2 separate regions of the Homo sapiens genome follow, and region 1 is linked to region 2. The links come from fine-mapping of genetic effects on gene expression. A gene starts in region 2. The other region holds a variant in brackets. All regions are shown on one strand. Distances are between the middles of the regions.

Region 1 (15,974 bases), 110 kb after region 2:
AGGTCAGCACGCAGGGAGGGCTATGTGTTTGCTGTTTGCTGCTTGCAATGTTTGCCCATATCAGGGACGGGAACAGGCTGAAGGTCATTCAGGGTGGACTTCAGAGGCAGCACACAAACAGCTGCTGGAGGATAGGAACTAAGAGGTCGGAAGGGGGCAGGGCGGGCCCAAAAACAGAGCCTGCAACTCTGTTCTCTAAGTCACCAAGCCCCAAAACCACTCTCAAATCTTTCTCTCTACCCCTGGATCCTTACCCTGGTCTGAATCCCATCCCCTCATCCCCCGAAACCCTGCACCCTCCTCCCTGCTAATCTTCTGGTGTCTCTAGCCACTCCCCTCCTGGCTGGATACTCTGGGTGATTGCAGGGAAGGCTGGGGTAAAAAAGGGTTTGAAATGTCCCTCCTAATGCATGTTGAAAAATTGAGTTATAATTCACATTCCATAAAATTTACCCTTTTTTCTTTTTCTTTTTTTTTTTTTTTTTTTTTGAGATGGAGTCTCACTCTGTTGCCCAGGCTGGAGTGCAGTGGGGCAATCTCAGCTCACTGTAGCCTCTGCCCCGCAGGTTCAAGAAATTCTCCCGCCTCAGCGTCCCAAGTAGCTGAGACTACAGGCACTTGCCACCACGCCTGGCTAATTTTTTAATTTTTCGTAAAGATGGAGTTTCACCATGTTGGTCAGGTTGGTTTCGAACTCTTGAGCTCAAGTGATCTGCCCGCCTCGGACTCCCAAAGTGCTGGGATTACAGGCGTGAGCCACCGCGTCCTGCTAAATTTACCCTTTTAAAGTGTACAGTTCAATGGTTTTTCCTATATTGGCAAGGTTGCACAATCACCACTATCTAATTTGGAACATGGCTCACTGCAGCCTCAACCTCCCTGATTCAAAGCCATCCTCCTACCTCAGCCTCCCAAGTGGCTGGAACCACAAGTGTGCACCACCATGCCCAGCTAATTTTTTTTAGGAGGGATGGGGTCTTGCTATGTTGCCCAGGCTGGTCTTGAACCTCTGAGCTGAAGCAATCCTCCCATCTTGGCCTCTCAAAGGTTAGGATTACAGGAGTGTGCCACTATGTCTGGCAGGGGATGATTTTGGAAGAGAACTGGAGGAAGTGAGGAGGGAGCCAGGCAGATATCTGGACCCCTGGGGAAGAACATTCCAGGCAAGAGGAACAGTAACTGCAAGGGCCCTGAGGTGGGAACCTGCCCAGTACATTGGAGGAATAGCAAGGAGTTGCTTGTGAGTGATGGAGAGAGAGGGATGAGGCGATCGTGAACCGGGTAGTGTCCTGTTTGTAGGCCTTTGGTAAGTTCTTCTGGGTTTGCTCTGAGAGAATCAGGAGAGTTCTGAGCAGAGGAAGAGCATAATCTGACTTGAGGCTGGGCACGGTGGCTCATGCCTGTAACCCCAGCACTTTGGGAGGCCGAGGAGGGTAGATCGCTAGAGCTGGGCAGTTTGAGACCAGCCTGGGCAACATGGTGAAACCCCGTCTCTACTACAAATACAAAAATTAGCTGGGTGTGGTGACACACACACACCTGTAGTCCCAGCTAATTGGGAGGCTGAGCAGGAGAATCGCTTGAACCTGGGAGGCAGAGGTTGCAGTGGACTGAGATGGTGCCACTGTACTCCAGCCTGGGCAACAGAGTGAGACTCCGCCTCAAAAAACAAAAAAACAAAAAATCTGACTTGAGTTCTAACAGGCTGCTGAGTGAGAAGAAAGGAGAGTATAGGAGTTTGGAGGGTTGATTTTGGGGGAGAAGGGAATGCATTAACCCCAGAGAGTAATATTTATAATTTATTTATTCTCTTTCTTTCTTCTTTTTTTGGTAGAGACGGTGTCTCACCATGTTACCCAGGCTGGTCTTGAACTCCTGACCTCAACTGATCCTCCCATCTCAGCCTTCCAAAGTGCTGGGATTACAGGCATAAGACACTATGCCCAGGTTCAGGATTTCCTTTTTTTTTTTTTTTTTTCTCCTGAGACACAGTCTCACTCTGTCATCCAGGCTGGAATGCATGGCGCAATATTGGCTCACTGCAAGCTCTGCCTCCCGGGTTCACGCCATTCTCCTGCCTCAGCCTCCCGAATAGCTGGGACTATAGGCGCCCGCCACCATGCCCAGCTAATTTTTTGTATTTTTAGTAGAGACAGTGTTTCACCATGTTAGCCAGGATGGTCTCGATCTCCTGACCTTGTGATCCACCTGCCTCGGCCTCCCAAAGTGCTGGGATTACAGGCGTGAGTCACTGCGCTCGGCCCAGGATTTCCTTTTATGTTTTGAGATGGAGTCTTGCTCTGACGCCCAGGCTGGAGTGCAGTGGCATGATCTCAGCTCACTGCAGTCTCTACCTCCTGGTTCAAGCTATTCTCACGCCTCAGCCTCCCAAGTAGCTGGGATTACAGGCACACGCCACCATGCCTGGCTAATGTTTGCATTTTTAGTAGAGATAGGGTTTCACCATGTTGGACAGGATAGTCTCCAACTCCTGGCCTCGAGTGATCCTCCTGCCTTGGCATCCCAAAGTGCTGGGATTACAGGTGGGAGCCACCGAGCCTGGCTTCAGGAGTTCCTTTTTTTATTTTTTGAGATGGAGTTTTGTTCTTGTCGCCCAGGCTGGAGTGCAACGGCACGATCTCTGCTCAGTGCAGCCTCCGCCTCCTGGGTTCCAGTGATTCTCCTGCCTCAGCCTCTTGAGTAGCTGGGTTTACAGGCACCCGCCACCATGCCTGGCTGATTTTTTTTGTATTTTTAGTAGATACGGGGTTTCACCATGTTGGCCAGGATGGTCTCCAACTCCTGGCCTCAAGTGATCCTCCTGCCTCGACCTCCGAAAGTGCTGGGATAACATGTGTGAGCCACAGAGCCCGGCCTCAGGGTTTCCTTTTTAAGGATGCTTTACATTCCATTGCACGTATAGACCACATTTCCTTGACCCATTCATCTGTTGATAAACATTTAGGTTGTTTCCATATCTTGGGTATTAAGCAGACCTGCAGTGAACATGGGAGGGCAGGTATCTCTTCAAGGTCCTGATTTCAATTCTTTTGAATAAATACCCAGAAATGAGATTGCAGGATCATTTGGTAGTTCTATTTTTAATGTTTTGAGGAAACCCCATACTGTTTTCCACAGTGGCTGCAGTGTTTGGTGTTCCCACTCGCATTGTAGGAGTCCCTTATATATTTTGAATATTAACCCCTTATTAGATATATGGCTTTCAAATATTGTTCTTATGCAATCTTAAGCTGGGCGCAGTGGCTCACACCTGTAGTCCCAACACTTTGGGATGCCAAGGCGGGCGGATCACTTGATGTCAGGAGTTCGAGACTAGCCTGGCCAACATGGTGAAACTCTGTCTCTACTAAAAATACAACAAAAGTAGCCAGGTGTGGTGGCACATGCCTGTAATCCCAGCTACTTAGGAGGCTAAGGCAAAAAAATCACTTGAATTTGGGAGGCAGAGGTTGCAGTGAGTGGAGATCGCATCATTGCACTTCAGCCTGGGTGACAGAGCCAGACTCCATCTCAAAAAAAATTTTTTTTTTACATAGGGTTGTTTTGCATGTGCATGTGGTTTAATTTTACGTAAGAGCTGGGCACAGTGGCTCACGCCTGTAATCCCACCACTTTGGGAGGCCAAGGCAGGAGGACTGCTTGAATCCAGGAGTTGGAGACCAGACTGGCCAGCACGATAAAATGCTGTCTCTACTAAAAATACAAAAATTAGCTGGGTGTGGTGGCACACACCTGTAATCCCAGATACTAGGGAGGCTAAGGCAGGAGAATCTGTTGAACCCAGGAGGCGGAGGTTGCAGTGAGCCGAGATCATGCCCCTGCACTCCAGCCTGGGGTACAGAGTGAGACTCTGTCTCAAGAAAAAAAAAAAAAGGCCAGGCGAGGTGGCTCATGCCTGTAATCCCTGCACTTTGGGAGGCCATGGCAGGCAGATCATGTGAAGTCAGGAGTTCAAGACCAGCCTGATCAACATGGAGAAACCTCGTCTCTACTAAAAATACAAAAATTAACCAGGCATGGTGGCACGCACCTGCAATCCCAGCTACTTGGGAGGCTGAGGCAGGAGACTCCCTTGAACCTGGGAGGCGGAGGTTGCAGTGAACTGAGATGGTGCCATTGTACTCCAGCCTGGGCAAGAGGAGCGAAACTCTGTTTCAAAACAAAACAAAACAAAACAAAAAACCTCAGCCCCTCATCTCGGGTAGACCACACTAGGAAAAGTGTAGCATAGTGACATTGCCTGGCTGAGGGTTCAATCTAGTTCCAGTTCTCCACTTCCTGGCTGTGTGACCTTATACAAGTAGCCTCACCTCTCTGGGCCTCAATGCCCTTATGGGATTATTAAGTCCCAGTTTGCAAGGTTCTTAGGAAGATTCTTTTGAGACCATAGAGTTAAAACATCCTTAGCACAGGGCAAGTAGATGGGGCATTGGAGGGCTTGTGAGGAGTCCGTAAGGTTCAGCCCCTGCCCTCTCCCACAGCCCCTACCCTCTCCGGCACCCCTGCCCCACAGTGAAGAAGCAGTCAGACAGAATTTTCTTTTCTTTTTTTTTTTTGACGCGGAGTCTGGCTCTTGTCACCCAGGCTGCAGTGCAGTGGCACGATCTCAGCTCACTGCAAGCTCCACCTCCCGGTTTCAAGCGATTCTCCTGCCTCAGCCTCCCGAATAGCTGGGACTACAGGCGCCTGCCACCACGCTTGGCTATTTTTTTTGTATTTTTAGTAGAGACGGGGTTTCACCGTGTTAGCCAGGATGGGCTCAATCTCCTGACCTTGTGATCCGCCCGCCTCAGCCTCCCAAAGTGCTGGGATTACAGGCGTCAGCCACCATGCCTGGCCAGAGAGAATTTTCCATAGGATTTTTATTGGTCACACCTGGGCGTGTGACCACATTGGACACACATGGAGGGCGTCCTCAGTACAGGCGCTGGGGTGTTGGAAATTTCAGAGGCCCCTCCTGGGATGTCACCCTTCAGGTCCTCATGAGTCAGTCTTGAGTTTCTCCTTCACTTTCCGAAATGTCTCTGAAAACCAATCCCTGTGGGGAGGAATAAGGAAGGGGGTCACTGTGTGCAGCTACCTCCCAGGCTGTTCAAATTCTACCTGCTACCTGACTCCCACCTCTTCCCCTTGCTGAATCTCCATCCCCACTGTCTGTGGGATTAGGAGGACCGCTGGGCTGGGTGGGCCAACTTCTGTGCCTCAGTTTCCCAGGTGGACCAAAGCACGTTGAAGTCTAAACACTTTACCCTTGGCTGGGCATTTGGCTCACGCCTGTAATCCCAACACTTTGGGAAGCCGAGGCAGGCAGATCACTGGAGGTCAGGAGTTCGAGACCAGCCTGGCCAACATGGCAAAACCCCGTCTTTACTAAATTACAAAAATTAGCCACCCGTGGTGGTGCACGCCTGTAATCCCAGCTACTCAGGAGGCTGAGGCAGGAGAATTGCTTGAACCTGGGAGGTGGAGAGTGCAATGAGCTGAGATCACACCACCGTGTTCCAGCCTAGGCAACAGAGCGTGACTCCGTCTCAAAAGAAAAGAAAAGAAAAGAAAACTTCACTCTGGCCTGGCTTTCAAGGCCTGCCATCTCTTGCTACCCACTCTTTCTTCCAGCCTGCCCTTGCCCTATCTGTTCCCCTACTCATTCAAAGGTACTTTCCAGCCTCCCTGCGTATGCCCAGGCTGTTCCCCTGCCTGGGATGCCACCCGCTCTTGCTTATTGATCGACCTTCTTGACTTTGGACCTTTGCCTCTCCCTCCAAACAATCAATCTTTCTTTCTTTCTTTCTTTTTTTGAGACGGAGTTATGCCCTTGTTGCCCAGGCTGGAGTGCAATGGCGCGATCTCAGCTCACCGCAACCTCCAGCTCCCAGGTTCAAGCAATTCTCCTGCCTCATCATCCTGAGTAGCTGGGATTACAGGCATGCACCACCATGCCTGGCTAATTTTTTGTATTTTTTTTTTAGAAGAGACAGGGTTTCTCCTTGTTGGTCAGGCTGGTCTCAAACTCCTGACCTCAGGTGATCTGCCCGCCTCAGCCTGCCAAAGTGCTGGGATTACAGGCATGAGCCACTGCACCTGGCCTCCAAACAATCTTTCTAAGTTTAGGCCTGACTAGATTTTCCCTCCCTCCCTCCCTCCCTTCCTTCTTTCTTTCTTTCTTTCTTTCTTTTTTTTTTGGATGAGACAGGGTCTCATTCTGTTACCCAGGCTGGAATGCAGTGGCACAAACATAGCTCACTGCAGCCTCAACCTCCTGGGCTCAAGTGATCCTCTTGCCTCCGTCTCCGAAGTAGCTGGGACTACAGGTGTGTGCCATCACGCCTGGGTAATTTTTTGTATTTCTAGTAGAGATGGGGTTCTCAAACTCCTGACCTCAAGTGATCCACTCACCTCAGCCTTCCAAAGTGCTGGGATTACAGGTGTGAGCCACCGCGCTCGGCATATTCTTCACTGTTTTATTCCCCACATTGAAACAGTTTCTAGCACTTAGCAGATGCTCAATAAATATGTGTTGAGGAACGAATGACTCTCTAACTTGCCAAAGGGAGCAAGTGTGGATTTGAAGATGTACTGAGCATTTACAATGTGCCAGACACCCTATAGGCCTTCTGCTTTACTTCCCCACAGAACCACCATTTCACAGGAAAGGAAACTGAGGCTCACAGTAATGCCTCTCTCTTAAGATCACACAGGGAGTAAGGGGCTCTATGCCAGCCTGGGGACTCAGGTCCCACCAAGCTTGTGTCCTTCATTACCCCACAAGACCATCTTTTTTTTTTTCAATTTTTTTTTTTTTTTTTGAGACGTGGATTCGCTCTTATTGCCCAGGCTGGAGTGCAATGGCATTATCTCAGCTCACTGCAACCTCCGCCTCCCAGGTTCAAGTGATTCTCCTGCCTCAGCCTCCCAAGTAGCTGGGAATAGAGGCATGCACCACCATGCCTGACTAATTTTGTATTTTTAATAGAGACGGAGTTTCTCCATGTTGGTCAGGCTGGTCTCAAACTCCCAACCTCAGGTGATCTGCCCAACTTGGCCTCGAACCCCCGATCTCAGGTAATCTGCCCGACTCAGCCTCCCAAAGTGCTGGGATTACAGGCATGAGCTATCGCACCGGGGCTGGCTTGTATGCTTTTTGTTTTGTTTTGTTTTGTTTTGTTTTTTAAATAGAGACAGGATCACCGGGCATGGTGGCTCACACCTGTAATCCCAGCACTTTGGGAGGCTGAGGCGGGTGGATCACAAGGTCAGGAGTTCAAGACCAGCTTGGCCAAGATGGTGAAACCCCATCTCTACTAAAAATACAAAAAAATTAGCCGGGCGTGGTGGTGGGCGCCTGTAATCCTAGCTACTCAGGAGACTGAGGCAGAGAATTGCTTGAACTGGGGAGGCAGAGGTTGCAGTGAGCCGAGATGGCGCCACTGCACTCCAGCCTGGGCAACAGAGCGAGACTCTGTCTCAAAAAAAAAAAAAAAAAAATAGAGACAGGATCTCGCCATGTTAGCCAGGCTGGTCTCAAACTCCTAGGCTCCAGCAATCCTCCCACAGTGCTGGGATTACAGGTGTGAGCCACCGTACCTAAGCAAAACCATCTTTTTTTTTTTTCTTTTGTGACGGAATGTTGCTTTGTTGCCCAGGCTGGAGTGCAGTGGTGCAATCTTGGCTCACTGTAACCCCCACCTTACTGGTGCAAGCAATTCCCCTGCCTCAGCCTCCCGAGTAGCTGGGATTACAGGTGCACACCCCCATGTCAGGCTAATTTTTTGTACTTTTAGTAGAGACAGGGTTTCACCATGTTGGCCAGGCTGGTCTTGAACTCCTGATCTCAGGCAATCCGCCCGCCTAGGCCTCCCAAAGTGTTAGGATTATAGGTGTGAGCCACGGCGCCCAGCCCAAGACCATCTTTTAAAATGTGGCCTGGATGGGAGTCCGGGAAACTGTCCCTGACGTCTGAGATCCTTGAGATCTAGCTGTGTGACCAGAAGGATGCTGTCAGCCTCTCTGGGACTTGTTTTTTTTTTCAATCTGTTCATCTTGGACATCCTCCAGGGCTCCACACAAACACACCCCAGCCCTCCCGTGCCCTGGGAAGGGTTCTAACCACATCTTGGCAGGAAGTTCACTCTGTGTGATGCGGTTGATGAATTCCCGAGTGTAGTCCTCCAGGGTCTTTCCTAACTCCTCCAGGCCATCAAAGGGGTTGGAGACTTCTGGAGCCCCCTAGGCTGGGGCTGGGCCTGCCAGGAAGATGAGGCAGGGGTGCAAAATTTGGTTGTTGTTGTTGTTGTTGTTGTAGTTTTGAGACGGAGACTTGCTGTGTCAAATGGTGCGATCTCGGCTTACTGCAACCTCCGCCTCCTAGGTTCAAGCAGTTCTCCTGTCTCAGCCTCCCAAGTAGCCAAGCGCGCACCACAACGCCTGGCTGTTTTGTATTTTTAGTAGAGATGGGGTTTCACCATGTAGGCCAGGCTGGTTTCGAACTCCTGACCTCAAGTGATCTGCCCGCCTCGGCCTCCCAAAGTGCTGGGATTACAGGCATTAGCCGCCACGCCCCACCAAAAATTTGTTATTGGAACCCCCTTGGGGTGGGATCCCGGGGATAGATAAGGAGATCCTTGGGGATCATGTGGTTAGAATGGGGAGGATACTGAAGTGACCGCGTGGGGCTCAAGCCGCTGGGAATTGCCTTACTCAGCACTGACCTCCTCCCACAGCCCATCGCCCCATCACCCACTTTCAAGGCTATAAAAGGAGGACAGCCAATCCCAGAGGTGTGGAGATCCATACGTCATCGGTTACTAGGGCTCTCCTGGGCAGATTTGGCGCCTGCCGGACTGAGCCTGGGCGAACCTGGAGACCCACTCGACCACAATGGGGCAACCACGACCAAGAAGGGGCCCCAGAGCTCTCAGAGGTCCTCTAAGCCGGGACCCCAGGCCTGTAGCCACCTTCACTCTTCCAAATCTCCAACTCCGCAATTCTCCCATCCCACTTTTACCTTCCAAGAC[G/C]ATCGACAGAACCACCACCAGGACCGGGAGCGACAGGAAGAGCCTCATGGCGAGGCCGGAGGGGCACCCTGGAGGCGGAGGCAGGGGTTCAGGGGATCAGTGGCACCCTCCTCCCTCCCTCCCACGATCCCCTCATCTCCCTTTATGAGTTCTTGCAGAGTGGAGGCGGGTGTCCCTCCCAAGCACTCAACAACCTGAATCCTTGCTGGAGGGCTTGGTTGGGAGGTCCTGTCCTGCCCGCAGGACCTTTATCAGGCTGGGGAGGGGGCGGGGCAGGTTGATGTTGATCTCCCTCCTCCTGAGCCTTCCCCTGGAAGATTGCCTCCTTCTGCCCACCCAGGTTTTTCTCCTCTGCCCCTGGCCCGTGGGCGTTGGGGTCAGGTGGGGTCCTGACCATTTCCCTTAGCTCCGAAGCCCTTTACCATTCAGCACCCTCACCTCCCAATCTCCCTGACTCTGGGGGGTCCTCAGACTACCATAGCTCCTTTCCCCACTCAGAGGACAGCCTCGTCCTGTCCCTGTGGCCATCTTCCCTCAGGGGTCTCCCAGTAATAACCCTGTGATCTCATCCCCCCCTCATTCACACCGTGTCCCTAGATCACCTCTTTCCCTCACTTCCCCTCTCTCAGCAAGCCTCCTCAGCCCCAACAACTTTTCCTTTATGTTGCTGGGGCCTCCCAGTTGGCCCCGCAACCCTGCCCTGCGTGCCACCTCCAATTTCTTTCAGACCAGCCCTTGAAACATCCCAGACCACCCTGATATTCTCTGGGCTCTTAACTTGATGATTTTCAGTCTCCCTTTTTTGCAAAGGGAAGGGGTCGCCTTAGCTGGACACTAAAAACCTCACCTGCATTGGCCAGGCATGGTGGCTCATGCCTGTAATCCCAGCGCTTTGGGAAGCTGAGGAAGGAGGATCACTTGAGCCCAGGAGTTAAGAGACCAGCCTGGGCAATATAGGGAGACCTCATCTCTACAAAAAAGTTCAAAAATTAGCTGAGCGTGGTGGCGCACACCTGTAGTCCCAGCTATTCAAGAGGCTGAGGTAGGAAGATTGCTTGAGCCCAGGAGTTCGAGGCTGCAGTGAGCTGTGATTGCGCCACTGCACTCCAGCCTGGTGAGACAGAGTGAGACCCCATCTCAAAAAATTAAAACCTTCAGCTGCAAAGCTCTGAGTGTATGCCCCTTCTTCCCTTCCACCGGGCCTCACCCCCTTTGGCTGGCTACCTCCCCCAAACACTCTATCTGCTCTTATTCACCCTCTGATGCCCCTCCTGGCACCAAGCCTGCTTCCCACCATCACCACATCCGTCCCCCAGGGCTGGAGTCCAATTCCTTCCCCACCAGCTGCCTTTGACCGCCAGTGACCCTGGCAGCTGATGGGGAGGGTGTCCTCAGCCCAGCCTCAGACTCTAGTTCGGCTGGCCTTGTGCCCCCACAACCACGTGTCAGCCTGGCGGTAGGGGGATGGTTGTGAAAGGGACAGCATAGACAAGACCCTGGCAGGATTGCAACATCCCTCTGGCCAGCTCAGAGCTTCCAGTCCCTGTAAGCCCCAGGGGCCCCCCTACTTCCTCAACTGAGCCCAGCATTCCCCAAACATCCACCCAGATGTCTGCTTCCCCGATCCCACAAGAATAGAATAACAATGCTCCTGATTTTCCAACCTCATCCTCCCCTCTGCTATAGGGGTTTCTGTTTAATAGATGGGGAAACTGTCACACAACCAAGAACATCCAGTAGGGCTCAGTGAGGGGCAAAGAGGGGGCTACTGACTGGGCGCAGTGGCTCACACCTATAATCCCACCACTTTGGGAAGCTGAGGCAGGAGGATCTGCTTGAGCCCAGGAGTTTGACACCAGCCTGGGCAACACAGTAAGACCCTATCTCTAGAAAAAAATTAAAAATTTGGCCAGGTGCGGTGGCCCACGCCTGTAATCTGTGCACTTTGGGAGGCCTAGGTGGGTGGATCATTTGAGGTCAGGAGTTCTAGACCAGCCTGACCAACATGGTGAAACCCCGTCCCTGTCAAAAATAGAAAAAATTAGCCGGGTGTGGTGGCACAGGCCTGTAATCCCAGTTACTTGGGAGGCTGAGGCTGACCAACATGGAGAAACCCGTCTCTACTAAAAATAGAAAATTAGCCAGGTGTGGTGGCACATGCTTGTAATCCCAGCTACTTGGGAGGCTGAGGCAGGGGAAGGTTGTGGTGAGATGAGATTGTGTCACTGCACTCCAGCCTGGGCGACAGAGCAAACCTCCATCTCAAAAAACAAAACAAAACAAAACAAAAAAACCAAATGTTTATTTGCCACAAAAACCCTATCAGATGGGCGTCTTTATCATTTCCATTGTACAGATGGGGAAACAGGCTTCGGGGTCGGGGCATAGCCACTTACTGACGACTCCCCACCCAGCAAGTGGTTTTGAACCCGGACCCTCTCACACTACCTAAACCACGCCAGGACAACCTCTGCTCCTCTCCACCGAAATTCCAAGGGGTCGAGTGGATGTTGGAGGTGGCATGGGCCCAGAGAGGTCTCTGACCTCTGCCCCAGCTCCAAGGTCAGCAGGCAGGGAGGGCTGTGTGTTTGCTGTTTGCTGCTTGCAATGTTTGCCCATTTTAGGGACATGAGTAGGCTGAAGTTTGTTCAGTGTGGACTTCAGAGGCAGCACACAAACAGCTGCTGGAGGATGGGAACTGAGGGGTTGGAAGGGGGCAGGGTGAGCCCAGAAACTCCTGTGTGCCTCTGAGCCTGCAGCTCTGTTCTCTAAGTCACCAAGCCCCCAAACCACTCTCATCTCTTTCTCTCCATCCCTGGGTCCTGGCCCTAGTCTGAATCCCATCCCTTCATTCCCCGAATCCCTACGCCCTCCTCCCTGCTAAACTTCTGGTGTCTCTAGCCCCTCCCCTCCTGGCTGGATACTCTGGGTGATGGTAGGAAAGTCTAGGGTAAAAAAGAGTTTGAAATGTCCCTCCTAACGCATGTTGAAAAATTGAATTATGATTCACATTCCATAAAATTTACCCTTTTATTTATTTTTTTGAGGTGGAGTCTCACTCAGTTGCCCAGGCTGGAGTGCGGTGGTGGAATCTAGGCTCACTGTAGCCTCCACCCGCCGGGTTTAAGCGATTCTCATGCCTCAGCCTCCCAAGTAGCTGAGACTACAGGCACCCACCACCACGCCTGGCTAATTTCTTAATTATTTTTTTTTTTTTTGAGACGGAGTTTCGCTCTTGTTGCCCAGGCTGGAGTACGATGGTGTGATGTCGGCTCACCACAACCTCTGCCTCCCGGGTTCAAGCAATTCTCCTGCCTCAACCTCTGGAGTAGCTGGGATTACAGGCATGCGCCACCATACCTGGCTAATTTTTTGTATTTTTAGTAGAGACGGGGTTTCTCCATGTTGGTCAGGCTGGTCTTGAACTCCCAGCCTCAGGTGATCTGCCCGCCTCGGACTCCAAAAGTGCTGGGATTACAGACATGAGCCACCGTGTCCGGCTAAATTTACCCTTTGAAAATGTACTGTTCAGTGGTTTTTCCTATATTGGGAAGGTTGCACGATCATCACCAGTATCTAATTCAGAACATGGCTCACTGCAGCCTCAACCTCCCTGATTCAAAGCCATCCTCCTACCTCAGCCTGCCACGTGGCTGGAACCCCAAGGTGTCCACTACCATGCTCAGCTAATTTTTATTTTTTATTTTTTATTTATTTTTATTTTTAGAACGGATGGGGTCTTGCTATTGCCCAGGCTGATCTTGAACTCCTGAGCTGAAGCAATCCTCCCACCTTGGCATCTCAAAGAGTTAGGATTACAGGCGTGTGCCACCACGTCTGGCAGGGGATGATTTTGGAAGAGAACTGGAGGAAGTGAGGAGGGAGCCAGGCAGATATCTGGACCCCTGGGGAAGAACATTCCAGGCAAGAGGAACAGTAACTGCAAGGGCCCTGAGATGGGAACCTGCCCAGTACATTGGAGGAATAGCAAAGAGTTGCTTGTGAGTGATGGAGAGAGAGACAGGGAGGAGGCGATCGTGGACGGCATAGTGTCCCGTTTGTAGGCCTTGGTAAGTGCTTCTGGGTTTACTCTGAGAGAATCAGGAGAGTTCTGAGCAGAGGAAGAGCATAATCTGACTTGAGGCCGGCCATGGTGGCTCATGCCTGTAACCCCAGCACTTTGGGAGGCCAAGGAGGGCTAATTGCTAGAGCTCAGGAGTTCGAGACCAACCTGGGCAACATGGTGAAACCCCGTCTCTACTACAAATACAAAAATTAGCTGGGTGTGGTGGCACACACACGCCTGTAGTCCCAGCTACTTGGGAGACTGAGCAGGAAAATCGGTTCAACCTGGGAGGCAGAGGTTGCAGTGAGCTGAGATGGTGCCACTGCACAGGCTGGGCAATAGAGTGAGACTCCGTCTCAAAAAACAAAAAACAAAAAATCTGACTTGAGTTCTAACAGGCTGCTGAGTGAGAAGACAGGAGAGTATAGGAGTTTGGAGGGTTGATTTGGGGGAGAAGGGGATGCATTAACCCCAGGGAGTAATATTTATACATTTATTTATTCTCTTTCTTCTTTTTTTGGTAGAGATGGTGTCTCACCATGTTACCCAGGCTGGTCTCGAACTCCTGACCTCAAGTGATCCTCCCACCTCAGCCTTCCAAAGTGCTGGGATTACACGCATAAGCCACTGTGCCCAGTTTCAGGATTTCCTTTTATGTTTTGAGATTGAGTCTTGCTCTGATGCCCCGGCTGGAGTGCAGTGGCATGATCTCGGCTCACTGCAGCCTCCACCTCCTGGGTTCAAGCGATTCTCATGCCTCAGCCTACTGAGTAGCTGGGATTACAGGCGCACGCCTGGCTAATTTTTTGTATTTTTAGTAGAGACGGGGTTTCACCATGTTGGCCAAGATGGTCTCCAACTCCTGGCCTCAAGTGATCCTCCTGCCTTGACCTCCGAAAGTGCTGGGATAACATGCGTGAGCCACATCGTCTGGGATGTGAGGAGCCCCTCTGCCTGGCTGCCCAGTCTGGGAAGTGAGGAGCGTCTCCGTCCGGCCGCCATCCCATCTAGGAAGTGAGGAGCGCCTCTTCCCGGCCGCACATCGTCTGAGATGTGGGGAGCGCCTCTGCCCCGCCGCCCCGTCTGGGATGTGAGGAGCGCCTCTGCCCGGCCGCGACCCCGTCTGGGAGGTGAGGAGCGTCTCTGCCCGGCCACCCCGTCTGAGAAGTGAGGAGACCCTCTGCCTGGCAACCGCCCTGTCTGAGAAGTGAGGAGCCTCTCCGCCCGGCAGCCACCCCGTCCGGGAGGTGAGGGGCGCCTCTGCCCGGCCGCCCCTACTGGGAAGTGAGGAGCCCCTCTGCCCGGCCACCACCCTGTCTGGGAGGTGTGCCCAACAGCTCATTGAGAACCGGCCAGGATGACAATCGCGGCTTTGTGGAATAGAAAGGGGGGAAAAGTTGGGGAAAAGATTGAGAAATCGGATGGTTGCCGTGTCTGTGTAGAAAGAAGTAGACATGGGAGACTTTTCATTTTGTTCTATACTAAGAAAAATTCTTCTGCCTTGGGATCCTGTTGATCTGTGATCTTACCCCCAACCCTGTGCTCTCTGAAACATGTGCTGTGTCCACTCAGGGTTAAATGGATTAAGGGTGGTGCAAGATGTGCTTTGTTAAACAGATGCTTGAAGGCAGCATGCTCGTTAAGAGTCGTCACCACTCCCTAATCTCAAGTACCCAGGGACACAAACACTGCGGAAGGCCTCAGGGTCCTCTGCCTAGGAAAACCAGAGACCTTTGTTCACTTGTTTATCTGCTGACCTTCCCTCCACTATTGTCCTATGACCCTGCCAAATCCCCCTCTGTGAGAAACACCCAAGAATGATCAATAAAAAATAAATAAATAAATAAATAAATAAATAAAATTTAAAAAAAAAAACATGTGTGAGCCACAGAGCCCGGCCTTAGGGTTTCCTTTTTAAGGATGCGTTACATTCCATTACATGTAGAGACCACATTTCCTTGACCCATTCATCTGTTGATAAACATTTAGGTTGTTTCCATATCTTGGGTATTGAGCAGACCTGCAGTGAACATGGGAGGGCAGGTATCTCTTCAAGGTCCTGATTTCAATTCTTTTGAATAAATACCCAGAAGTGGGATTGAAGGATCATTTGAGAGTTCTATCTTTAATGTTTTGAGGAAACCCCATACTGTTTTCCACAGTGGCTGCAGTGTTTGATGTCCCAACTAGGATTGTATATTATACATTTTGAATTTTTTTTTTTTTTGAGATGGAGTCCCACTCTGTCTCCCAGGCTGGAGGGCAGTGGCGCCATCTTGGCTCACTGCAACCTTCGACTCCTGGGTTCAAGGGATTCTCTTGCCTCAGCCTCCCAAGCAGCTGGGATTACAGGCATGTGCCACCCCACCCGGCTAATTTTTTTGTATTTTTAGTAGAGACAGGGTTTCACCATGTTGGCCAGGCAGGTCTCAAACTTTTGACTTCAGGTAATCCGCCCGCCTTGTCTTCCCAAAGTGCTGGGATTACAGGCATGAGCCACTTCACCCAGCCTGAATATTAACCGGTTATTAGATATGTGGCTTACAAATATTTTTCTTATGAAATCTTAAGCTGGGTGCGGTGGCTCACACCTGTAATCCCAGCACTTTGGGAGGCCAGGACGGGTGGATCATTTAAGGCCAGGAGTTTGAGACCAGCCTGGCCAACATGGGGAAATTCCGTCTCTACTAAAAATACAAAAAAATTAGCTGGGCGTGGTGGCACATGCCTATAATCCCAGCTACTCAGGAGGCTGAGGCAGGAGAATCCCTTGAACTCAGGTGGTGGAGGTTGCAAGGCTGCAGTGAATGGAGATTGTGCAACTGCACTCCAGCCTGGGTGACTCCATCTCTTAAAAAAAAAAAAAAAAAGAA
Region 2 (15,974 bases):
CAACAAATGGCATGAGCGCTTTGCCCCTTTTCCTCCCTTTTTCCTCCCTGCTGGATAGAATGAAGACATGATGGCCAGAGCCTCTTAGACCTCGATGCAACACTAGGAAGAGAAGCTGTGCCCAGGAGAACAAAACAGAAGCGGCTTAGGTCCCCGAGCTAACTGGTTACCTCTTGGCTTTTCTGTGGCTAAGAAATAAACATCTATCTTGTTTAAGCCACTGACGGATGCTCTAGGTTTGTTAGAGCCAAAGCTGATTGTCCATGTGACATCCTTTCACATGTGGAAGAGGAAATGGGCTCAGGGAGGCAGTCACTTGCCCACGTCACACTATAGATAAGTGGGATCGCTAGAATTTGAACCCAGAGCCCCATGACTCCCAAATTCTAAGGACTAACCATGATGGGATCTCACCTCCTGGCTGTGTTGCCTTGGGCAAGTCACCTCACCTTTCTTTTTTGAGACAGGGTCTCACTCTGTCACCCAGGTTCCAGTGCAGTGGTGCAATCACAGCTCACTGTAGCCCCACCCTCCCAGGTCTCATCTTGCCTCAGCCTCCCAAGTAGCTGGGACCACAGGCGCATGCCACCAAACCTGGCTAATTTTTTTTTATTATTTTTTGCAGAGATGGGGTCTTGCTATGCCTCATCTTTTTGAACCTCTATTTCTGCATGATAAGGCGCAGGTGAAAAGCTTAGAGAGGTTAAGGGTCAGAGACTGGGTTATAGTGCCAGCTCTGCCCTCATGCTATGTGACTGTAAGCCACGTATCTCCGTGCTCCAGTTTTGTCCTCTGTAAAATGGAAATAGTAAGAACCACCTCCTAGTCTTGGGTGTGGCTTTGATGAAGCGGAGACACAAGCCAAGTAGTTAGCACAGTGGTTACCACAGAACTGCCCAACAGCGTTAGCTGTTATCGTGGCATCACCTTTAACACAGGCATGATCAATACCTACCTCGCAGGCCTGTTCAGAGGACTACTATGCCAAGCTGGTGAGCACTGGGTCTGGCGCACCATGGGCCCTTAATAAATGGCAGCTAGGCTGGGTGTGGTGGCTCACGCCTATAATCCCAGCGCTTTGGGAAGCCAAGGCAGGCGGATCACTTGCAGTCAGGAGTTTGAGACCAGCCTGGCCAATATGGTGAAACCCTGTCTCTACTAAAAATACAAAAATTAGCCGGGCGTGGTGGTGGGCACCTATAGTCTCAGCTGCTTGGGAGGCTAAGGCAGGAGAATTGCTTGAACCCGGGAGGCGGAGGTTGCACTGAGCCGAGATCGTGCCACTGCACTCCAGCCTGGGCGACAGAGCCAGACTCCATCTCAAAAAAAAAAAAGGTAGCTATTCATTCCTGAGTGCTGTGTTCCTAGGCCACTTCTGGGGCCTCAACTATGACCAACAGAGACCCAGGCCTTGCCTTGATGATCACATCTTTCTGACACTATCGGAGATGAGTTCTCCCTTTAGCCCCGTGGTTCCTTCCTGGGTGGCAGAGGTAAGCAAGGAGCTCTCAGAGCTTCCTCTTCTCTGCTGAGTGGAAGTAAGAGCGGTCTCTGTCTCACAGGTGACTGTGGGGATTCAAAAAAAATCCTGCATCTCTCACATGGCCTGGGGGTGCCTGCGAAGGATCAATTAAATGGTTAATTACTATTGTTAATATTGTTTTATTCATCTATTCTTTCAAACCATATTTGATGGACCCAACCCTAGGGTACAAACGTGACCCAAATATAATTAGTCCCCAGTCTCACAGAGCTGGGTATGTGCATATACGTATGAATGGAAAAAATTTTTTTTTTTTTTTTTTTTTTTGGGACGGAGTCTCGCTCTGTCGCCCAGGCTGGAGTGCAGTGGCACTATCTCGGCTCACTGCAAGCTCTGTCTCCCGGGTTCATGCCATTCTCCTGCCTCAGCCTCCCGAGTAGCTGGGAGTACAGGTGCCCACCACCACGCCCAGCTAATTTTTTGTATTTGTAGTAGAGACGGGACACACACACACACACACACACACACACACACACACACACAAAGTATTCCTTATCTGAAGTGCTTGGGATCAGAGGTGCTTCAGATTTTTTCAGATTTTGGAATATTTGTCTATTCATAATGAGATATCTTAGGGATGGCACCCAAGTCCAAAGACCAAATTCATTTATACTTTATAAGCACAGCCTGAAGGTAATTGTATACAATATTTTAAATAATTTTGTGCATGAAACAAAGTTTGTGTAAAGTACTTATATGTGAAACTTTCCACTTATAGTGGGGCATCATGTCAGTATGCAGAAAGTTTCAGATTTTGGAGCTAGCCGGGCGTGGTGGCTCACGCCTGTAATCCCAGCACTTTGGGAGGCCGAGGCAAGCAAATCACTTGAGGTCGGGAGTTCAAGACTAGCCTGACCAACATGGTGAAACCCTGTCTCTACCAAAAGTGCAAAAATTAGCCAGGCATAGTGGCACATGCCTGTAATTCCAGCTACTCAGGAGGTTGAGTGAGGCAGGAGAATAGCTTGAACCTGGGGGGTGGACGTTACAGTGAGCTGACATCATGCCACTGCACTCCAGCCTGGGCGACTAAGCAAGACTCTGCCTCAAAAAAAAAAAAAGATTTTGGAGCATTTCGGATTTTGAATTAGGGATGTTCAACCTGTGTATGCGTATGTGTGTGCGTGTGTGTATACATACATACACACACATATATATATATATATAAATTTTTTTTTTGAGATGGAGTCTCACTCTGTTGCCCAGGCTGGAGAGCAATGCAACCTATGCCTCCCGGGTTCAAGCAATTCTCCTGCCTCAGCCTCCCGAGTAGCTGGGATTACCATTTACTCCTGTATTACTGCCCCAGCCTCTTCCCTGGTCTGCTGGCCTCCAGTCCTGGCTCCTCCAGTCTGTCCTCCCTAGAAGAGTCCAGGAGGCCTTTCTAAAGCACAAAACTGACCCTGTCCCTTCATTGCTCAGAGCACCTCTATGGCTCCTAAGTGCCCTTGAGAGAAAGCCCAGGCTCCTCACCACCTCCAGCTAATTTCTGTATTTTTAGTAGAGACGAGGTTTCATCATGTTAGCCAGGCTGGTCTCAAACTCTTGACCTGAGGTGATCCACCTGCCTTGGCCCCCAAAATGCTGGGATTACAGGCGTGAGCCACCACACCAGGCCCATGTATGTGTATCTTAAGTGTGTTAAATTCCACAAAGGGGAAGGAAAGGGAGCTATGATTATGGCATTTTTAGAGGACACCTGACTGAGCTTGGGAAACAAGACTTCTCTGAGGACTGAGATCTGACAGATAAGCAGTAGTTAACCAGGTATGGGAAGAGCTCATACAAAGGTCCTGTGGCTGGGGAGCGCTTGGGTCAGTGGAGGAATAGCAAGGAGGCCAAAATGACTTGTGCAAAGGAACAAGGCAGAGTGTGGGGTGGTGTGAGTCTGGAGGAAGGGCAAAGGCCAGGCCATGCAGGACCCTAAAGGCCACAGTGAGGAGCCTGGGCTTTCTCTCAAGGGCACTTAGGAGGCATAGAGGTGCTCTGAGCAACGAAGGGACAGGGTCAGTTTTGTGCTTTAGAAAGGCCTCTTGGACTCTTCTAGGAAGGACAGACTGGAGGAGCCAGGACTGGAGGCCAGCAGACCAGGGAGGAGGCTGGGGCAGTAATACAGGAATAACTGGGAAAGGTCTATATAAATGTCATCTGACAGGAACACTGAACCTAGAAAACAGGTGCCATTTCAAGCTGGGATCCCAAGGATACACAGGAGTTAAATAGGTGAGGGGGGGTAATATAGGCCAAAGCCCTGTGGTGGCAGAAATAGAAGGCCAGTGGAGCTGTCCGAGTATGAAGCTGAGTGGTCAGACCACAAGGGTCTTTTAGGCCAGGGATAGTTTGGTCTTCCCCGCAAAAACAACTGAAGCATCAGACAGGAGAGGGAAGTGGTCAGGTTTCACTTAATATTCACTCCTTTTTTTTTGAGACAGTCTTTTTTTTTTTTTTTTTGAGACAGAGTCTCGCTGTCGCCCAGGCTGGAGTGCAATGGTGCTATCTCAGCTCACTGCAGGCTCCGCTCTGCCCCCCTCCCCGGTTCACACCATTCTCCTGCCTCAGCCTCCCGAGTAGCTGGGACTACAGGCACCCGCCACCTCACCTGGCTAATTTTTTGTATTTTAATAGAGATGGGGTTTCACCGTGTTAGCCAGGACGGTCTCGATCTCTTGACCTTGTGATCTGTCCACCTCGGCCTCCCAAAGTGCTGGGATTACAGGCGTTGAGTCTTGCTCTGTCACCCAGGCTGGAGTTCAGTGGCACAATCTCCATGCACTACAGCCTCCTCCTCCCGGGCTCAAGCAATTCTCGTGCGTCAGCCTCCCAAGTAGCTGGGACTACATGCACACACCACTAAGCCTGGCTAATTTTTGTATCTTTAGTAGAGATGGGGTTTCACCCTTTTGGCCAGGCTGGTCTCGAACTCGTGACCTCAGGTGATCCACTTGGGATTACAGGCGTGAGCCACTGTGCCAGGCCAACTTAATACTCACTCCTATTGTGTGCCAAGCCAAATCTCAAGAGTGGCTGAGCTCTTCTGGGAATGGGGAACACAGCAATAAGCGAAACAGACATTCTGGAGGTGGCCAGTCTAACGTCAGGACTGCTCTGAGGGTTACAGAGACTTCCCTTTTTCTTGCTAACACCGGATCGGCACTGGGAGGCCACACCAAACGACACAGTATGCTACAACAAACAGAAGCCCTTGGGATCCCACCAATGATTATCCTCAAGAAAAGATTAATGAATATACTCCTGAGGAAATGAGCCTCTTGTCTTGACATACTTCCAAGCCCAGATTTTACCAGGATGACCAGCTGTGCCCCCCAACCCAGGGTCCCTCACCCCAGACAAAAGGCCAGTTACTCACGATCTTTTCATAATACTCCCGTCTCCGCTCCGCCCTCTTCTTGTAGTCGACCATCATGCCTCGAAGCTTCCGCTCATGCTTCCGAGCCTCGTGCCACATTGTGGTGAGGCCAAGCCTGGGGCCTCAACCTGAGGGATGAAGGGACCAGGAAAGTCAGATGGTCTGTGAAACCCGTATGGGCAGAATCAAAGTCATCTAACAAGTTGGTGGCAGAGTCGATCCCAAACAACACATCTCTTAGCTTCAGGGAGCAGAAGTGAAGCTGCAGAACAGTATGCCAGATGTTCAAGTCCATCCCTAACAACTTCGATCTAGAAGCTTGGGCATTCTGAAAAACCCTCAGGTGATTCTGAGGTGAGCATCACTGGGAAAGGGGTGTCCTAGATTCCACGCGCTGGAGTCGGGAATGAAAGGTTTTGAAACATCAGCAGTGTTTGAAGTAGGGTCAGAAGGCAAACCCTGAGCACTTAAGGCTGGAGCTCAAGAGAAAGAGAAGAACTGAAAAGGCTCCCACTAGGGGCCATGCGTGGGGTTGGGTATGAGTCTGGGTGGTAGAGGGATAAGGAGAATAAGGATGAAGGCAGGTGGAGGAAATCGGAGAAAGCTTTTAAGGGAACAGTGCAGTTGTATGAAGGTGGAGGTCGAGGACAGGTGAAGGGCGTGGCGGAAGATGAAGATGCTAGAGGGAGTGGGAACACGGGGAGGGAGTGTTGCAAGGAGACCAGAGTGAAGCTGAGGTCTAAAGATGGGATCTAGATGGCGGGGTGGGGAGAGCATCCAAAGAAAAAGAGCGTAGAGCCTGAGAGAGGCGGAGCTGGCTGACAGGAGGGCGTGGGCTGAGCTTGGGGGCAGGGCTTGCGGGAAAGGGCGGAGACCGAAGGTTTGGACGGGGCTTGTGGATCGCGTCGCGGCCTGAGGATTTGGGCTGGGTTTTTTTTTTGTTGTTTTTTTTTTTGACAAGGGGGCGGGGCCTGTGATAAGCTGCTGGGCCGAAGGCCGAGTTCGACGCGGCAACTTCTGGCCCACAGCCGGGGCACGGGCTCGGCCTGAGGCCCGTCAGGCCTAATGGGGTGAGGGACGAGCGATCCTCGGGGCCGGGACGCAGCAGAAGCCCACAGCAGCATGGGGAGAGCCTGAGGAAAGGGAGAAGCTGGGCTGAGGCCTGCCCGAAAACCGGGAGGTCGAGCCGCAGCCTGCACTCACCGGCTGGTCGCCGCCTCCCACCGCTGCGCTCGCGCGCGGCCCGCACCGGAAGCGGAAATGAAAGGCCGCGCTAGGGGGAGGGGGCGGAGCATGGTGGAGGGCCGCGCAGCGCACTTCCGCCGACGAGAGAGGCGGGTCCTAGAGTCGAGAGGGGCGGGATCCCGAGGAAGAAGTGGGAGAGCGGAGAAGGGAAGAGCTTGGATGCTTTATCTTTTTATCTTTTTTATTTTATTTATTTATTTAATTTTATTTTTTTGAGACGGAGTCTCTCTTTGTCTCCCAGGCTAGAAGGCAGTGGCGCGATCTAGGCTCACTGCAACCTTTGCCTCCTGGGTTTCAGCTATTCTCCCACCTCAGCCTCCCGAGTAGCTGGGACTACAAGCGCGCGCCACCAAGCCCGGCTAATTTTTGTATTTTTAGTAGAGATGGGGTTTCACCATTTTGGTTAGGCTGGTCTCAAACTCCTGACCTCAGGTGATCCACCTGCCTCGGCCTCCCAAAGTGCTGGGATTACAGCCATGAGCCACCATGCCCGGTCTCATTTTTTATTTTCATTTTCATTTTTTATTTTTTTGAGACACAGCCTCGCGCTGTCGCCCAAGCTGGAGTGCAGTGGTGCGGTCTTGGCTCACTGCAACGTCCACCTCCTGGGCTCAAGCGATCCTCCCACCTCAGCCTCTAGAGTAGCTGGGATTACAGGCGCGCAGCACCACGCCCGGCTAATTTTTGTATTTTTTGTAGAGACTAGGTTTCGTCATGTTGCCCAGGCTGGTCTCAAACTCGTGAGCTCAAGCGATCCTCCTGCTTTGGCCTCCCAAAGTGCTGGGATGACAGGCCTGAGCCCCCAGCCTGGAGGCTTTCTTTGCTACTAAGGGACTAGGGCGTTTCCCAAGCCCAGAACAGACGAAACCCCGGAGGCTCAAAAACTCATCTTTATTGGGAAGACTCTGAACAACCAACCTACCCCCCACCTTCAAGTCTGGGGAGGGAGGGCCAGGAATCTGCCCCCTCCTCCCATATGTACAATCTTTTCCGAATCCTACTGGAGAAGGTGCCCCCACATGTGGGGACAGAGGCAGCTGTAACAAGCTAGTGCACGGGAGCCATGTCCCTTTTCCTCTCCGGACTCAGTTTCCTCATCTGTAAAATGGGCTCAAGGGGAAACCCGTGCAACGGAGCTTCTCGCCAAGGCTGAATATGTCCACTTCAGAAGCATGAGGAAGGGCCAAGGGGATGGGGGTGCTAGACATCCTGGTTGGGATTGCACGGCTCCTCCACCTCCCTCCCCACCCAGTGCCCCTCCTCTGGCATCGCGGGGCTACGTGGCTTCAGGCCCCGGGGATAGGAGGCCGCCCCCAAAGGCCGCCTCGCGGTAATGATTGGGGAACATGTTGCTGCCCACAAGGCTGGCGGTGCCTCCATCCCCGGGGCCCGGGGCCTGGTACGAGTCCAGTGTCAGTGGTTCAGGGCCGGGGGTCTCCCCAACCACGGCCCCGGCACCTCCGCTGCACACAACAGCGCTAGCGTGTGGCGGTGCCGGGGGCAGCAGGTCCAGCATGGTGAAGAGTGTGGGGGCCGTAGGGTCGTAGGCAAAGCCATCGTCCAGGAGGTCAGGCCCGCCAGGGGGCTCCAGGCCGGGCAGGGACACGGTGCCAGAGAAGAAGTCAGGGTCTGGCAGCAGGGCTGACGGCGGGAGGAACGGGCCTACGGGGATGAAGACAAGAGAAGTGTAGTGTGATTTAGGGCTAACTTCTGATCAGGCCCTAAATCAAATGCCCTACTCCCTGCAAAATGTGATATCAAGGTGGCCTTTTTTTTTTTTTTTCTGAGATGGAGTCTCATTCTGTCACCCTGGCTGGAGTGCAATGACGTGCTCTTGGCTCACTGCAACCTCTGCCTCCCCAGTTCAAGTTGATTCCCCTGCCTCAGTCTCCTGAGTAGCTGGAACTACAGGCCAGGCATGTGCCATGCCCAGCTAATTCTTATCTTTTTAGTAGAGACGGGGTTTCACCATGTTTGCCAGGCTGGTCTCGAACTCCTGACCTCAGGTGATCCACCTGCTTCGGCCTCCCAAAGTGCTGGGATTACAGGTGTGAGCCACCAAGCCTGGCCTTAGGTGCCCTCTTAATCCCAAGGAGAATCCGTGTGGGACTATCACCATTCTCAGATAATAAGTAAATTGAAGGCCAAGCGTGGTGGTTCACACCTGTAATCCCAGCACAACGTGACGAGACCCTGTCTCTACAAAAAAATTATTTAAAAGTTAGCTGGGTGTGGTGGTGCCCGCCTGTAGTCCCAGCTACCTGGCAGTCTGAGGCAGGAGGATTGCTTGAGCCCAGTTTGAGGCTGCAGCGAAGTATGATCACACCACTGCACTCCAGCCTGGGCAACAGAGCAAGACCTTATCTCTAAAAATAATTAATAATAAGTAAACTAAGGCACTGAGGGAAAGTAAATGGAAGGCTCACACAGCTGTTGTGGAACTGGGGTTGAAACCATGCTCCTACACAGCTGTGGAGAGTTTTCCCTGAGAGTGAGAAAGGAGAAGAGGTTCCAAAGCCCCCCAACATACAGAGACAACCCAAAAAGTGAAATCTCCAGACCATGGGAGACACAAGTTGGGAAGTCACCAGTCCCAAAATTGTCAGAAAAAATAAATGTCATTCTCAGGCATAATGGGGACTTAAGAAAAAATAACAATCAAATCAAAAAGTTTCATTATAAGAGGGATTCTCAGGCCAGGCATGGTGGCTCACGCCTGTAATCCCAGCACTTTGGCAGGCCGAGGCGGGCAGATTACCTGAGGTCAGAAGTTCAAGACCAGCCCGGCCAACATGGCGAAACCCCTTCTCTCCCAAAAATACAAAAATTAGCAGGGCATGGTGGTGGGCACCTGTAATCCCAGCTACTCAGGAGGCTGAGGCAGGAGAATCACTTGAACCTGGGAGGTGGACATTGCAGTGAGCTGAGATTGTGCCACTGCACTCCAGCCTAGGCAACAGGGCAAGACTATCTCAAAAAAAAAGAGGGACTCTCTTTTTGGAACAAGACAAACCTTAGAGACACAAGGGACTATTTTCTAGCCTTCCTTGCAGCCTGATGTGATCATGTGACTAAGGTCTGCTAACTGGAACGTGGGCGTAATGGCTGGAGCTACAACAGCCACCTTGCACCATGAGTTGGCGAACTGAAAATGGCAGAAGCCTCGGTCTCTCGATGATCATGCAGTCACCAGACCATCCCTGGAACACCTACCTATGGACTGTTTTTTGTTTCTTGTTTTTGAGACGGAGTCTTGCTCTGTTGACAGGCTGGAACACAGTGGCACCATCTTGGCTCACTGCAGCCTCCACCTTTTGGGTTCAAATGATTCTCCTGCCTCAGCCTCCCAAGTAGCTGGGACTACAGGCATGTGCCACCACATCCAGCTAATTTTTGTGTTTTTAGTAGAGATGGAGTTTCACCATGTTGGCCAGGATGGTCTCTCTCTCTTCACCTCGTGATCTACCTGCCTTGGCCTCCCAAAGTGCTGGGATTACAGGCGTAAGCCACAGTGCCAGGCCTGTTTTGTTGTTGTTGTTGTTGTTGTTTTGAGAAGGGTCTCATTCTGTTGCTCAGGCTAAAGTGCAGTGGTGCAATCTTGGCTCACTGCAACCTTCACCTCCTGGGTTCAAGTGATTTGTCTGCCTCAGCCTCCAAGTAGCTGGGACTACAGGTGTGCACCACCACACTCGGCTAATTTTTGTATTTTTAGTAGAAACAGGGTTTTACCACGTTGGCCAGGCTGGTCTCAAACTCCTGGACTGAAGCAGTCCACCTGCCTCAGCCTCCCAAAGTGCTGAGATTACAGGCATGAGCCACTTTCAGTCCCTACAGACTATGTATGTGAGACAAGAAATAACGTTCTATCCTGTTGAAGCCCCTGTTATTTTGGGTTTTGCTGTAAATGCAGTTAAATGTGATCATAGGTGGGATGCAGTGGCTCATGCCTGTAATCCCAGCACTTTGGGAGGCTGAGGCAAGCAGATCACCTGAGGTCAGGAGTTCAGGACCAGCCTGGCCAATGTGGTAAAACACCGTCTCTACTAAAAAATACAAAAATTAGCCAGGTGTGGTGGTGTATGCCTTTAGTCCCAGCTACTTGGGAGCCTGAAGCAGGAGAATCGCTTGAACTCAGGAGGCAGAAGTTGCAGTGAGCTGAGATCATGCCACTGCACTGCAGTCTGGGCGACAGAGCGAGACTCCATCTCCAAAAAAAAAAAAAAAGAAAGAAGAAATAGATCAAATTTTAAAACACCACTGAGCTAAGTATGTACTGGGCCTTTTCAAAGGAGTCCCTGAGGCTCTGAGAGGTAGAACAACTTAATGAAGTTCACATAGCAAGGAAATGGCCCAGAAGAGATCAGAACTTCCATTCTGTCTCCAAAGCCCTCATTCTTTCTACTCTATGTTGCTGGCTAAGTGCTGAGTGACTCGCCTTGTGGCTGCTCTTGGAGGGCGTGAAGAGGCCAGAAAAGCAGGGCTGCCACTTACCCTCTGCCCACCCAGGGGACAGGGGCTTATGTGTAGCTGGGACCCACCTGAGCCGTGGTTGGGCAGGAAGTGGTCCAGGATGGCCGGCTTTTTCTTCCGCCGTTTGCTCTCGATGCCATGGGGGTCTGAGGGAAGGCAGAGATGAGGACCCCTGTTCCCCGACAGCCCTTCCTCCCCAGCCTGGGGTGGGACAGGGCAGTGGGGTCAGCTGTCCCCTCCCCAGAACCTGGGGATGGGGGTGGAAAGGGGCAGAGGGCACACACCAGAGCTGTTCAGCTCCCCAAGGACGTCGGGCATCCCCCGTTTCCGCTTCTTGTCCACGCCGTAGCTGTCTGTTAAGGAGATACCAGGGACACACAAGAAGTAATTCATCAATAATAATTAATTCCTTTATTTATTTATTTATTTATTTATTTTTAGAGACAGTCTTGCTCTGTTGACCAGGCTGGAGTGCAGTGGCACGGTCTTGGCTCACTGCAACCTCTGCCTGCCAGGTTCAAGTGATTCTCCTGCCTCAGCTTCCCAAGTAGGAGGGATTACAGGTGTGCGCCACCACGCCCAGCTAATTTTTGTATTTTTTTAGTAGAGATGGGATTTCACTATATGTTGGCCAGTCTGGTCTTGAACTCCTGACCTCAAGTGATCTGCCTGCCTTGGCCTCCCGAAGTGTTGGGATTACAGGTGTGAGCTGCTGTGCCAGGCCTATTTTTTTTTTTTTTAAAGATGGAGTCTTGGCTGGGCGTGGTGGCTCACTCCTGCAATCCCAGCACTTTGGGAGGCTGAAGTGGGCGGATCACCTGAGGTCAGGAGTCCGAGACCAGCCTGACCAACACGGCGAAACCCGGTCTCTACTAAAAATACTAAAATTAGCCGGGCATGGTGGCGGGTGCCTGTAGTGAGTCTTGCTCTGTTGCCCAGGCTGGAGTGCAATGGCACAATCTTGGCTCACTGCAACCTCTGCCTCCCGGGTTCAAGCAATTCTCCTGCCTCAGCCTCCCGAGTAGCTGGGACTATAGGCGCCCACCACCACGCCCGGCTAATTTTTGTATTTTTAGTAGAGACGGGGTTTCGCCATGTTGTTCAGGCTGGTCTCGAACTCCTAACCTCAGGTGATCCGCCTGCCTCAGCCTCCCACAGTGCTGTGATTACAGGCATGAGCCACTGCGCCCGGCCTACACACTGGCCTCTTTGTTGTTCCTGGAGCACCCCAGGCACAATCCGGCCTCAGGACCTTTGCACCTGCTGTTCCAGCTGTTTAAAGCACTCTTCCTCCACTCTCACTATTTCCCTAGAAAACTTCCCTGCTTAGTCATCCTCCTGTCCTCAGCTCAGCTGTCCCCTCCTCCAAGAAGCATTCCCTGACACCTACAGCTGGGTCAGGTACCCCCTCTGGGCAATGTGAGCCCTTGAGCACTTCATTCCAGTCCTGCCCACTCTGGTCATCACTCTGTAGGGACAGGCTGTCCCCTATCCTCAGGACTATAAGCCTCATGAGGACACAGCTAGGGGCCGTGCTGGTCACTGCTGTGTCTCTAGCAATACCGAGCACAGGCCCGGGCATGTGCAGGATGCTGAGGGGAGGAAAGATTAAATACTCTCCAAATGTCACAGGACAGCTACTATTATTTCCATTTTGCACAGAAGAATGAGGCTCAGAGAGGCCAAGGTCACACAACCAGTAAGCAGCAGAGCCAGGATCTGAACACTGTCTTTGTAGCTCTGAGCCTGCATTCTAGTTCTGCCTCTTTCCCATCCCCACTGGGGTCTCCCCAAGGCCAAAGACCTAGTCTCCGAGGTGGTGGGTCACCCTGGGTTGCTGTAGTTACCATGGTCGCGAGGCAGGTACGTGAAAGGCAATGGCTCGCTGCAGACCCCATCGGTGAGCCGCTGCAGGAAGACGTTGACTGTCACGGGCTCGACAATCTCCAGGTCCTCGTAGGGCGGCGTCTTGAACACAATGGCAATCTGGCGGTGCACGTCGGCCTGGGAGAAGTCAGCCCGACCTTCCCAGGAGGCCCTGCTGAACACCACTGATATGTCCTCTGGCAGGAAACGGGGGACATCAGCTAAGCCAGGACATCTGGACCACTGTGCTCCCAACTTGCCCAGCCTCCCCTAAAATCAAGACTAATATTCCCCCTTTTTAAAATTTTTTTTTTTTGAGAGTCTTGCTCTGTTGCCCAGGCTGGAGTGCAATGGCGCGATCTCAGCTCACTGCAACCTCTGCCTCCCGGGTTCAAGCAATTCTCCTGCCTCAGCCTCCGGAATAGCTGGGATTACAGGCATATGCCACCACGCCCGGCTAATTTTATTTTTGGTTTTTTTTTGTTTGTGTGTTTTTGAGATGGAGTCTCACTCTGCCTCCAGGCTGAAGTGCAGTGGCATGATCTCGGCTCACTGCAACCTCCAACTCCCTGGTTCAAGTAATTCTCCTGCCTCAGTCTCCCGAGTAGCTGGGATTATAGGCATGTGCAACCACGCCCAGCTAATGTTTGTATTTTTAATAGAGACGGGGTTTCACCACGTTGGCCAGGATGGTCTCGCTCTCCTGACCTCGTGATCTGCCCGCCTTGGCCTCCCAAAGTGCTGGGATTACAGATGTAAGCCACCAAACCCGGCCTTGTTTTATGTATTTTTATATATATTATCTCATTTAATCCTTATAACAATTTAAGAGGTAGGTAGAATTAATATCCCCCTTGCCAGGCACGGTGGCTCACGCCCATAATCCCAGCACTTTGGGAGGCCGAGGCAGGCGGATCACGAGGTCAGGAGATCGAGACTACCCCGGCTAACATGGTGAAACCCCGTCTCTACTAAAAATACAAAAAAATTAGCCGGGCATGGTGGCAGGCGCCTGTAGTCCCAGCTACTCAGGAGGCTGAGGCAGGAGAATGGCGTGAACCCGGGAGGCGGAGCTTGCAGTGAGCCAAGATCGCACCACTGCACTCCAGCCTGGGGGACAGAGCAAGACTCCGCCTCAAACAAACAAACAAAAGAATTAATATCCCCCTCATGTCCAGGGATCCTCAAGATCACCCTCAGGTGGTTCAGTAAGAGGACTCACAAGACAGCATACAGTCATACTCACAGCTATGATCTGTTATGGCAAAAGGATACCAGGCACAGTCAGCAGAGAAAAAAGGTGCCTGTCCAGGCATAGTGGCCCACACCTGTAATCCCAGCCCTTTGGGAGGCTAAAGCTGGCAGATCACTTGAGGCCAGGAGTTCAAGACCAGACTGGCCAACACAGCAAGACCTTGTCTCTACAAGAAAATTAAAAAATTAGCCAGGCATGGTGGCGCACGCCTGTGGTCCCAGCTATTTAAGAGACAGAGCGAGAGCCTGGTTCTTAAAAAAAAAAACAAAAACGGAAACTGAGGCTTGAAAGTGTTGAGACATCACACAACTGGTAGCGGAAGAGTCAGGATTCATGATGCTACTCTGCCTGCTATTTATTTTTCTTGTCTTACTGCATCGCCCGTCATCACAGTACCTCCATGTACTGAGACTTTATATGTGTCAGTTACATATAGATTGCCTCTAAGTCACACAACAACTCTATGAAGAAGGTACTATTAGGTACCGTATTGTATAAAGACGAAAATGAAGGCACAGAGAGGTGAAGTCACTTGTCCAAGGTCACACAGCTGGCAAGTGTTAGAGCCAAGATGGAAACCCAGGAAGGCTAGAACTCTTCACTACCAACTCTGTTATAACTTGGGGAAGTTACTAGATATCTCTGGAACCAGTTTCTTCACTTTACTTTATTCTATTTTGAGACAGAGTCTCGCTCTATTGCCCAGGCTGCAGTGCGGTGGCACCATCATAGCTCACTGTAACCTCCAACTCCTGCACTTAAGCAATCCTCCTACCTCAGCCTCCCAAGTGCTGGGACTACAGGCACATGCCCCAACATGCCTGGCTATTTTATTTCATTTTTTGAGACAGAGTCTCACTGTGTTGCCCAGGCTGGTGTGCAATGGCATGATCTCGGCTCACTGCAACCTCTGCCTCCCAGGTTCAAGTGATTCTCGTGCCTCAGCCTCCCAAGTAGCTGGAATTACAGGTGTGTTCCACCACACCCAGCTAATTTTTATATTTTTAGTAGAGACAGGGTTTCACCATGTTGGCCATGCTGGTTTTGAACTCCTGACCATAAGTGATTCGCCCACCTTGGCCTCCCAAAGTATTGGGATTACAGGTGTGAGCCACCACAGCCGGCCTAATGCCTGGCTATTTTTTAATTAAAAAGAACTTTTTTTTGTAGAGATGGGGGCTTGCTATGTTGCCCAGACTGGACTCAAACTCCTGGGCTCAAGTGATCCTCCCACCTCAGCCTCCCAAAGTGCTAGAATTACAGGCATGAGCCACCAGCCCAGCCGGTTTGTTTTTGGTTTTGATTTTTTGAGACAGGGTCTGTCTCTGTCGCCCTGGCTGGAGAGCAGTGGTGCAATCTTGGCTCACTGCAGCCTCCGCCTCCCGGGCTCAAGTGATCCTCCCACCTCAGCCTCTCAAGTAACTGGGACTACAGGTGCACACTACCACACCTGCTAAATTTTTTATTTTTTGTAGAGACAGGGTTTCACCATGTTGCCCAGGCTGGTCTCGAACTCCTGAGTTCAAGTGATCTGCCCGCCTCAGCCTCCAAAACTGTGCTAGGATTACAGGCATGAGCTGCTGTGCCCAGCTGTCTTTTTCTTTTCTTTCTTTTTTTCTTTTTTTTGAGACAGAGCTTTGCTCTGTGGCCCAGGCTGGAGTGCAGAGGCGTGATCTCGGCTCACTGAAACCTCTGCCTCCCAGGTTCAAGCGATTCTCCTGCCTCAGCCTCCCGAGTAGCTGGGATTACAGGTGTATGCCACCACAACCAGCTCATTTTTGTGTTTTTTAGTAGAGATGGGGTTTCACCATGTTGGGAGGCTGGTGTCGAACTCCTGACCTCAGGTGATCCGCCCACCTTGGCCTCCCAAAGTGCTGGGATTGCAGGCATGAGCCACTGCGCCCAGCCCTCATTTTTGTATTTTTAGTAGATATGGGTTTTCACCATGTTGCCCAGGCTGGTCTCGAACTCCTGAGCTCAAGTGATCCACCCACCTCAGCCTCCCAAATTGCTGGGATTACAGGCTTGAGCCACGGTGACCAGCTGTCTTTTTTTTTTAAAAGCCTGTTTGAGGAAGGGCCATTTGAACAGAGATGAATGAAGTGGAGTTGCTTCTCCTGTCCTATTTGCTTTACCCATAGCGCTTATCAGAACCACCGTAAAGCGTTCATTTATGCAATTCCACCCTTAACATCAGAGTCCTCTGGACATGTCGTGAGCTCTGTGAT

The links.
Region 1: its variant is fine-mapped to the expression of CLASRP in esophagus mucosa (GTEx, PIP 0.98).

What each region holds. Positions count from the first base shown.
Region 1 is chr19:44,920,085-44,936,058 of GRCh38, reverse strand. It overlaps the pseudogene APOC1P1. Among named protein-coding and RNA genes, the nearest start is that of APOC1, 13 kb to the right of the region's middle. RefSeq lists an enhancer at 7,825-8,717. The variant G/C (reference allele first, on the strand shown) is at 9,036.
Region 2 is chr19:45,029,248-45,045,221 of GRCh38, reverse strand. It overlaps CLASRP (CLK4 associating serine/arginine rich protein), which reads right to left and starts at 6,177. Exons shown (of 21, transcript NM_007056.3): 1 at 6,114-6,177; 2 at 4,911-5,038. The coding sequence starts at 5,009. RELB (RELB proto-oncogene, NF-kB subunit) reads right to left here. Exons shown (of 12, transcript NM_006509.4): 9 at 12,473-12,688; 10 at 10,910-10,978; 11 at 10,694-10,771; 12 at 7,030-7,817. The coding sequence ends at 7,432. RefSeq lists an enhancer at 5,634-6,503.